Linked DNA regions of Homo sapiens. The protein of the gene in region 1 interacts with the protein of each later gene in a pairwise test. Each region holds a gene or a part of one and is shown in the gene's direction. Other genes may lie near its edges.

The links. The genes of interacting proteins can lie anywhere in the genome.
Region 2: the proteins of LPIN1 (region 1) and ATXN10 interact in binary tests that used the Homo sapiens proteins (3 or more experiments, as listed by UniProt).

What each region holds. Positions count from the first base shown.
Region 1 is NC_000002.12:11,748,734-11,753,664, forward strand, and holds part of LPIN1 (phosphatidate phosphatase LPIN1), read left to right. Parts: exon of another isoform or gene 1-7; intron 8-4,931. UniProt on the Homo sapiens protein: Acts as a magnesium-dependent phosphatidate phosphatase enzyme which catalyzes the conversion of phosphatidic acid to diacylglycerol during triglyceride, phosphatidylcholine and phosphatidylethanolamine biosynthesis and therefore controls the metabolism of fatty acids at different levels.
Region 2 is NC_000022.11:45,688,348-45,693,278, forward strand, and holds part of ATXN10 (ataxin-10), read left to right. Parts: intron 1-1,364; coding exon 1,365-1,556; intron 1,557-4,648; coding exon 4,649-4,731; intron 4,732-4,931. UniProt on the Homo sapiens protein: May play a role in the regulation of cytokinesis. May play a role in signaling by stimulating protein glycosylation. Induces neuritogenesis by activating the Ras-MAP kinase pathway and is necessary for the survival of cerebellar neurons.

The sequences.
Region 1 (4,931 bases):
CTAAAAGGTACCTAAATGAGGTTAATTGATTTGGGCAAGCCTGCCAATGGGGGTAGTCGAGGGGTACAGGCAGCTTTTTCCTTAGGGTGGGAGGGGGCTGTTGCACGGATGTCGGCAGCTTTTGGAGCATTTTGAGAGACATCCAGGTGTTAGGTCCCGCCAGGACACCGAGGCTGGTGGTTCGACCTGTTTGCACTTGCACTTCCTCACTGGTAGCCCGGGCGTGGGATCTTGGAGCTTTTGAGGGGTCCTGAGGAGGAAGTCCCTGGAATCACCCACTAGCAGCTTTGGGGCTTGTTCCTTGAGAAGGGCAAAGTCACAATTTTGACACTTTATTGAACCCTGGACCAATGTATTGTATAATAAGCCCACTCATTTAAAACTGGAACGGGGTGTGTGGGGAAAAAAGAGTTGGGACAAAACCCAAGCAAAGCCGTTCAGTGACGTCACAGGTTCTTCATTCAGAAGAGGCCCAGGTGCCTATCGGATGGCTGTTTCTGAAATGTTCGCTTTCTGAGCTGTGAGGGAGGGTCTGGAGAGAGAGAGGGGCCCATGCCTGTGTGTCGAGGGGACACACCCACACTGGCCCTGCTCCTTGATCAGAGGATGCACCAGCGCCTGAAGGGAATCTGTGCCCCCTAGGAGGCCACACTGGGCCCTGGGGCTGCTGGGGTCCGAAGCAAGTGCCCTGACCTCCCTTCCTGTGGGTTCCCTTCCTCTTCCTCTTTCCACAGCTTTCCCCTGTCTGTCTCCCTACCTGTAATTCACCCCAACAAGCCCTTAGCAGCTGGGGTTGGGGTGGGGTCTGTGCAGCCAGGGATATGTTGAGTAGTGAGTTTCTGCCTGTAGAAAGCTCTGGGTCTGGGCTGACCCAGACCCAGGCTGACACTTTTCACAATGAGGTATGTGGCCCAGGAGTCTTAAAACCTCAGCAGTGTCTGGCCCACAGGCTGTTCTGCACACTGAGGGATGCAGGGCGCGTTGTGCCGCTCCCACTCCCAGCTGAGAGGTTGGGAGGAACCAGATGGACTGGGCTCCATCAGGAGAGAAGCCAGAAGCATTTTCACACCGGTGGTCATGGCTACAGGGTCATGGTTACAGTGGATTTTTCAACCCACTGACCAAATGTTGTGATTCTTGCAACAACTTAAAATTTTCGGCTGATGCTGAATGCTGGGGCTTTCCAGAAATAGCCATAGGCTGTTAGAACAGGCACTTTGCTCTGTAAGGAGGCCTGTTTGTTCCTGAGTGTGAGCTGATTTGCATTGGCTCACAAAGTTGACCACAGACCCTGCATGGGAGACACAACCAACACCCCCATTTGCCTGCTGGCACGCACTTGTGCCCCCCTCCCCTCCCCGGCCTCGCTCCCTGGAAGCCCTCGCACCTCTCCCCTTGCCCTCTGTCCCCTAGCCACACACACTCACTTTTTGATGAAGTCGTCCTCCGCGTTCATGGATCTCACTAGGCTGTAGGTCTTCAGTTTACAAGACAGGAGACAAGCAACAAGGGTTTTAGGATAATGGGCACCAGACAAGACAGGCGCCCAGACAACTGTTCTGGCAAAACAATGTCCCACCATTGGACTCTGTGCAATGCCAGAATGCCACCAGTCTCGGGGTGGCCTCTTTGGGCTCAGATTTTGGGCAAATGAGAATGTGGAATGTAGGCATAGCCTTCAAATAGTTCTGTATTCATTTTAACTAGTAATATTCTTTGCCTCTGTCTTTTTGGGAAGGTACTATTTAAATAGGTGATATATACAAAGTCCCCTCTGGCAAGAGACGTTATTCAAAGACCGGATTTTGTCTGGAACCAGTTTGTGGTCACAGAATTAGCACGTGGTTTTTATTTGGTGCATGTGCTTTGAAAAGTACTTTACATTTACTGCCTCACAACAGTCCTATGAGGTGGCTGTGCTGATGTCATCCCTTTTTATAAAATAGATGCGAAACTGCAGTGCAGAGAGCTTAGTAACCTGTCTTTGATCACAGAGTTAGTGGAAGGTGGAGGCAGGATTTGAATACCTCCAGAGCCTGCGCTCTTACCTGCTGAGCTATATTGTCTCCTAATAGTGCCCTGGAACACCCAGGTGATATATGCCCACCTCCCAATTGCTGGGGTGTGGTAGGGGTGGGGGGTAATACAGAAATAAAGTTATAAGGGCAGAGCATTCTTTTTGACCAAGACACGAATTTGGACAGAGGGCTCTTGAAAGTGCGTAGAGAGAATGTGCCATTGGGTCTTTGAAGGAAAAGAACGTCCTGTCCTTAATCAGTGAGCTAAATAATTAAGAGCCAAAGGATCGGAGTCAAAGCCTTGGGCTGTTTTGCTCAGCATAGTTGTCATACCATATTTAGATGTCTACACCCACCTTTATCCAGGCCATTTGTATTTCTTGGCAGGAACGTGAGAACAAGCGTCACCTGGGGTTGTGGTATCTGAGGGTTGCAAAGTGTCAGCGCTGGAGGAGCTGAGTGATCACTCATCTGACCTTCCCTCCAAAGCAGGAGTACCCCTGTCCAGCACCCTGTCCTGTCTCAGTGGTTTCAGTGATGGAGACCCTGAGACTGAGTGGACCAGAGTTTTCCATCCTTCACTCCCAGTTCTCTGAGGTTACTAATAATTGACATGAAATACATGCAGACATAAAAAACACAAGCTAGAAAGCAACACTATGGGAAGTATTTATGATAAAAAGTGAAGATCTCTTCCTCCTTTTCCCAGGCTGGTCCCCAGGGGTGAATCTTGTGAATCTTGTTTTGTATGTATCTCATTCCAGAATTTTTTTATGCATATCAAAATATGTACAAATGTAATTTTTTAAAAATGGGTCCAGCTGGGCGCGGTGGCTCACGCCTGTAATCCCAGCACTTTCGGAGGCCGAGATGGGTGGATTACGAGGTCAGGAGATCAAGACCATCCTGGCTAACATGGTGAAACCCCGTCTCTACTAAAAATACAAAAAAATTAGCCAGGCTGGTGGCAGGCGCCTGTAGTCCCAGCTACTCGGGAGGCTGAGGCAGGAGATTGGCGTGAACCTGGGAGGCGGAGCTTGCAGTGAGCCGAGATTGCGCCACTGCCCTCCAGCCTGAGTAACACAGCGAAACTCCGTCTCAAAACAAAACAAAACAAACAAACAAAAAACCACAATGGGTCCATATTATAAGTATTTTTGTACCTGTTTTCATTCTATATATACATTTTCATGTTAATATTTATGGAGCTACCTCTCTACCATTTTATTATCAGCCTCATAATATTCCATTTTACAATGTGGATGGCCCATAATTTATTAAGCCAGAGTCATACAGATATTAAGTTATTTCTGATTTTCCCTATTACAATTAATGCTACAGTTACTGTTTTTGTACACGGATCTTACTGTATTTGTACAATCAGTTCCCAGCGGTATAGTTGCTAGGGTTTGCCAATAGGTGCCCCAAAAGATGGGCATTGCCACATTGCTTACCCCATTTATGACCCTGTTAGTAGTGAGTGACGATGTCTGATTCTCCTACTTTTCATGGGCCCTGGGGTTTTAATGAAATGCTTTGATTTTGGACCATCTGAAAGGCCTCTTTCGATTCCTGTATCTTTAATTATGAATGGGGTTGAATATCTCTCTCATATATTATTGGCCAAATGTGAACTGTCTATATGTTTTGTCCATTTTTTCTTTTGAGCTGTTCCAAGGCCATTTTTTTTTTTTTTTTGAGACGGAGTCTCGCTCTGTCGCCCAGGCTGGAGTGCAGTGGCGGGATCTCGGCTCACTGCAAGCTCCGCCTCCCGGGTTCACGCCATTCTCCTGCCTCAGCCTCCCAAGTAGCTGGGACTACAGGCGCCCGCCACTACGCCCGGCTAATTTTTTGTATTTTTAGTAGAGACGGGGTTTCACCGTTTTAGCCGGGATGGTCTCGATCTCCTGACCTCGTGATCCGCCCGCCTCGGCCTCCCAAAGTGCTGGGATTACAGGCGTGAGCCACCGCGCCCGGCCTCCAAGGCCATTTTAAACTGACCTTAATCTTCTAGAGGTGGCTGGTGTTGGCAAAAATTGTGGGGTTAGGAAAGCTGTGGCAGGGGTTTTGAATTTTGGCAGTTCCAAGAAAGCAGCGTTTCTTGGCAATTTGTGAAGCCTGGAGATGGATTCTGCCAATTTTGGAATAAATGTGGAATTTTCTAATTTAATCGTGAGGCAAGAAACCATGTGACCTCTGTCACCTCATCCTGACAGTGTCCGCAGTGCTGTCCTTTCTGGAACTGTATGAAATTGCGGTCGTGAATGCTTTGGAGCGTCTGCTGTGTGCTGGAGTTCTACAGATGAGCTTAATTATGGGAACGCCCTCCTGTCCCTGGGCAAGGAGGGGGATGAGCAGGGTGGGGGTGTGCTGGAGGAGGAGACGCCTGCCACTTTGCCACCCTGGAAGCTCACTGCAAGAGCTGCAAAATTTCCCACCTGCCTAACACAGGCAGGGCTTTGGTGGCGGGACCCCAGGGCTGGCTGTTTTTGCTCTTTCATCACTTTTGTCAGGAAGTATTGAAAGACCTTTAAAAGGCCTCTGACTTGCAGGGCCTCTGACCTGCAGGCCTTTTAAAGCATCTCCAGCTTTTCTAGTGAGTTTTTGTATTTTGGACGGGAATGTCTCACGAACCCTGGCATGCCAAGAAAGTCCCCAATTTCCCAGCAGGTAGTGATGGATGCAGAGCTGTGCTCTTCTGTTTAAGAAGCTCCTCAAGGCACTCTGGCCAGGACAGTTTAACCACAGGGACGCTGGTGGACTCAGTCAATCCAGACCTGGCAGAGGGCAGCAGCTGCCTATAAGTGTGTGCCAGTTACAGCAGGGCGTGGGCTGCTGCCCAGGTGGCCTGACTTTCTGTCTGTGTTCCTTTCCCTGTATCACCCTGAGTCTGAGCCAGACTTCCTCTTTTGT
Region 2 (4,931 bases), on another chromosome or scaffold:
AAAAAATAAATACGAGAAAAAGATAAGGGGGGAAATTAGGGGTAGTGGAAAAGCCAGATAGAAAAAGTAAGGATTCATGTTGTTTGGGTCATAAATTTGACTCCAGACTTAAGAAAGGCCCCGACAGAGAGAAAACATAATAAATAATGTGAGTTCTATTGTCTGTTCGTAAGATAAAAACACACATCACTTGGTGTATAAGAAGCCATGGTACTGAAGTTCAAGGAAAGACGTGTTTCCTCTGCCCCCGGAAAAGGGGCTTCCATAGGTGTCTTCTGCGGCAACTGAGCAGCTCTGTAACCTGGGCAGCTCAGTGTCCAGAGTTCTGAATGAACATGTGGCTCCCTGCTGGTCTGGCTCAATCCAAGGGTGAAAGGTAGGGCACTGTGAATCTACAGCGAGAGCAGAAGGAGAAAATTCATATGGTCTGAATCATTTGGCATTTATAGAATCTCTTAAATTGTCCAATGTGGCAACTTTCCTTCTAACGTTAAAAGAGATTTGCTGTTTCTTTAGGGGATTTATGGAATGAGGAAGTTGGCTTGCATTTAGGTGCAATGTTGCACAAAAAATTCTTATCTTTAGAGCTCTGGAATGATAGCCAGTGCAGGCAGTACTCCTGGCATGAGAGGCACGCAGAGACTGAGATGCCCAGAGGGTACAACCACAGGTTCATCTTTCTCCCTGGGCATACATTCTTGGTGGAAGAACAGGCACACTTTACATTCTCCCCCTCTCCTTTCTCTCCCATCTATGTAGTTGACTGTAGAAGTTTGGTGTGTGTGTTGTCAGCCTCACTGTGTCTACAGAGTAGATAGTATCCTTGTCCTACAGGAATATTGTTTCTTATAACTGAACTTAGCTACATATTGGGTGACAGAGGACCAGAATATATTCTCTGTCTAGAACATTAAATAAAGATACTCTGTTCTGATTCAGGGTAGATCCATAAGCATGAGCAGTCACTGGAACTGGGATTTGGGTTGTCATGGGTAGTGGAAGTGCTCAGGCCAGAGTGCTTCACTTGGCCTTGTGTCTCTGCCAGTTACTGGCTGAGTGATTTGTGCAAGTTACTTACCATCTCTACTTCACTTACCTTATCTGTAAATGGAGAGGACAGTGTTGGCCTCATAAGGCTGTTGCAGAGACTGAGATAATACATGAGAAGTGACAAGAACAGTGTCTGGTGCATAGTAAGTGCTCAATATGTGTAGATCTTTTATTTGGTGTTGTAAATTAAGGAGCTAAAGCAGATAAACGTAGCGTACCTCCCCACAATAGTAGATAAAAGCAGTTTTCTGAATAGGACATTTGGAAATCATAATCTTTTTTTTCTGATTCGTGATAATTTTATCCTTTTTCAGAGAAACAGCACCCAGGACTATCTTCCAAAGAGTTCTGGATATCCTAAAGAAATCTTCTCATGCTGTTGAGCTTGCCTGCAGAGATCCATCCCAAGTGGAAAACCTGGCTTCCAGTCTGCAGTTAATAACAGAATGCTTCAGGTGTCTTCGCAATGCTTGCATAGAGTGTTCTGTGAACCAGAATTCAATCAGGTAGTTACACACGTACCTTGGATTCTGTTTCTTTGTATATGTGCATGCTGGTTCTGTCATTTGGTTTATCTGTTAGAAGTTGTTTTGGGCTGGGTAAGGTGGCTCATGCCTGTAATCCCAGCATTTTGGGAGGCTGAGGCAGGAGGATTGCTTGAGTCCAGGAGTTCAAGACCGGCCTGGGCAACATGGTGAGACCCTGTCTCTACAAAAAAAATACAAAAAATTAGCTGGACATGGTGGCGCACACCTGTAGTCCCAACTGCTCAGGAGACTGAGGTGGGAGGATTGCTTGGGCCAGGGAGAGGCAGAGGTTGCAGTAATCTGAGATGATGCCATTGCTGCAGGCTGGGCCACATTGTGAGACCCTGTCTCAGGGAAAAAAAAAAAAAAAAAGTTGTTCTGGCATGATAGTATCACCCACTGTTATTGCAGGATTGCCCTTTACATCTGCTGGGAGAGGCCCTCTACAGGCCTTGCCATTGGAGTCTCTCTGACTAGTGTATAAAATAATGGAGTGTGTTTAACATTAGGGGTTAGATTTCTTGTTTGTTTTTATCACATGTTTTGAGGTATTTGGTTCTTCATAGTGTTTTGAAGCTGATTTTGAGTCTTTGTTCCTAGATTTTACCTGCCTAAGTTTATATGCAGTTCTTGACCTCAGGTTGTAAATGTTTTAATTACTTTTAATGTTTTAATTTGTTACTCTTGTGTTTGGACAAGAAGCATATTTTGTAAATTTACAAGATGACCTGTCTTTCCTAAAGATCATGTAAAGTTCCAAGCTCTGCTTCCACCTATTTTATGATGCGCACATTTTTAAAAGTAGTTAAAACATGAGCAGGCGAGCTGTCCAGTGCTCTTCTTTGCTTTTACGTGTTACCGTCTCCTCCCAGAACACAGCATCTTTCTTCTTTGATTTTGTGGAACCTGCTTTTTATTAAAAATTTTTACTTGAAGTCAGAAGCCACAAACAGGATGCTCACTTTCCTTCCTGGACTTGGATGTAGACAGAGCCTCCAGGCTTCCCTGTCACCACTGTGACGGGTAAGCTTGGGCTGGTCCAGAAGCCACTTGAGGGACTCCCTTCGGTTAGACACATATACCCGAGGCTTTGATATGATTAATGAGATTTTTAAGATCAAAGGAGAGAGGGTAAAAAGTGAGTCGTGTAACTTCAATACTAAACCAAACCTGCCATCCATTTGAGGATAAATGGATAGAAACAACAATAATCTTGATAATAATAGTCTACATTCTAAAACATAACTAGTTATATGCTAGAAGCATCTGGCCAGAAGGCTAGTTTCTTTTGTCCTTTTCCAGTCACAAGGTGCTCTAGTGTGATGGGGAAGGAAAGGAGAGCCGTAGAACTAACTTTTGACTGTGGCTGGCAGATACACCTTTGTGCTTGGCTAATCTTGGTGGGGAAGGGAGTGAGCATTCGTTGAGCCTGCCTTCGGCATTGGGCTTTGTCCCAAGGGTTTTGCTTGTAGTATCTTCTTTAATTCTTAGAACAAACTCAAGAAATTTTTTCATTTTTACAAAAGATGAAACTGTAACTTGGAGAGGTTAAATAACTTGTCTGAGAGTCACTTGTTAAGTGAGAGAGGCTGGGAACATTCTCTCCATATCCAGACATCTGACTCTAAAGCTTAAGCTTAACAAGCAGTCTGCCCTTACTGTTCTGAGCTTAAGCTCAAAAGCAGTCTGGGCCAGGCGCGGTGGCTCACGCCTGTAATCCCAACACTTTGGGAGGCCGAGGCGGGTGAATCATGAGGTCAGGAGTTCGAGACCAGCCTGGCCAGCATGGTGAAACCCTGTCTCTACTAAAAATAAAAAATTAGCTGGGTGTGGTGGCACACACCTGTAGTCCCAGCTACTCTGGAGGCTGAGGCAGGAGAATCACTTGAACGGGGAAAGCGGAGGTTGCAGTGAGCCAAGATTGGGCTACTGCACTTCAGCCTGGGCAACAGAGTGAGACTCCGTCTCAAAAAAAAAAATGCAGTCTACCCTTGCTGTCCTGAGCCTTACACACTGGTCTTGTTGTGGATGACTGCTCCATCTTGACCCTGGACAGGTGACTTGGTCTTCCTGAGTATCAGTTTTGTCCTCTGTAAAACTAGGTAAGCAATGTCTTCCAAACAGGCTGGTTATGGGGTGTAAATGAGATTACTTATGTAAATGCCTAATGCACATTGTGTGCTCAGTAAACATTAAATGTTTCTGCCTCTGCCTCAGGAATGAATGTACAACACAAGTTTATGTTAATACTTTCTTTCAAAGCAGTCAATTTTTATTTTCTTTTTTGAGTAATATATGCAAACTATAAAAATTCTAACATTACAAAAATAAATACTATGACAAGTAAGTTATCGGTGGTCTTTTGGTAGGGCCAGCAAAGCAAGGGCTGTGCTGTTTGTGATATCTTTTTATTGCATGCAACTTATGGTTGGGCGGAAATGAAAATGAACATTTAAGGGTGTTAATTTTTCTGCCTCTTCCCTTCTAGGATTGTATTATTATTCACTGTTGATTTTTAAAGGAAAATTTCAACCATTTAGGGCAGCAATTTTCAGAAAAGAATTTTCTAGTTAGAAATACTACAAAGATTCTAGTAAAGACTTTGTGGCCAAGCTTAACTAAGGCCAGTATTTCTGAGCCAGTCAAGATTCAGATTGCAACTAGTACATATTTTTCTGATGTTTTACTTTAAGTCGTTAAAGAGTTCATCAAAAGGTGTGATGCTATTAAAGCCTAGATCTTTTTACATCTTTTGCACTTTGTGTGGACTGGGACTGTTTTTGCCAAGAATGCATGGAATGGGGTAAAATACAATAAAGCAAAGAATCTGAGTCATGGGAAACTTCAGGAAGTACTCAAAGAAAGCTGTTGGAAGCAGTTAGCTCTGCATGTAAATATAACCTCTACTGCTAGGGTTGCTATATTTTTCCTGTAAAGAGCCAGATAATAAATAATTTAGGCTTTGTAATCTCTGTCAGATTTCTCAGCTCTCCCATTGTAGTGCAAAAACAGCCATAGACAATATATGAATGAATGAACATGTCTAATTTTGTCTTTTTTAAAAAACCCAGGAACTTGGATACGATTGGTGTTGCTGTTGATTTGATTCTTCTGTTTCGTGAACTGCGAGTGGAACAGGAATCTCTGTTGACAGGTAGCATGCAATATAATTCATGGATTATTTATATCTTTATAAAGGGTTCAAAACCAGTACTTTGAGTATTAACATCATTCATTGAAACACATGTTCTGTATTTCATGAGATAGGGAAACTTTAATAGTGAATTATTAAAGAATTATAAAGTTGTATCAACTTCCCTTCCTGAATGGCTGAATTTTGTTCCTTTCACATTT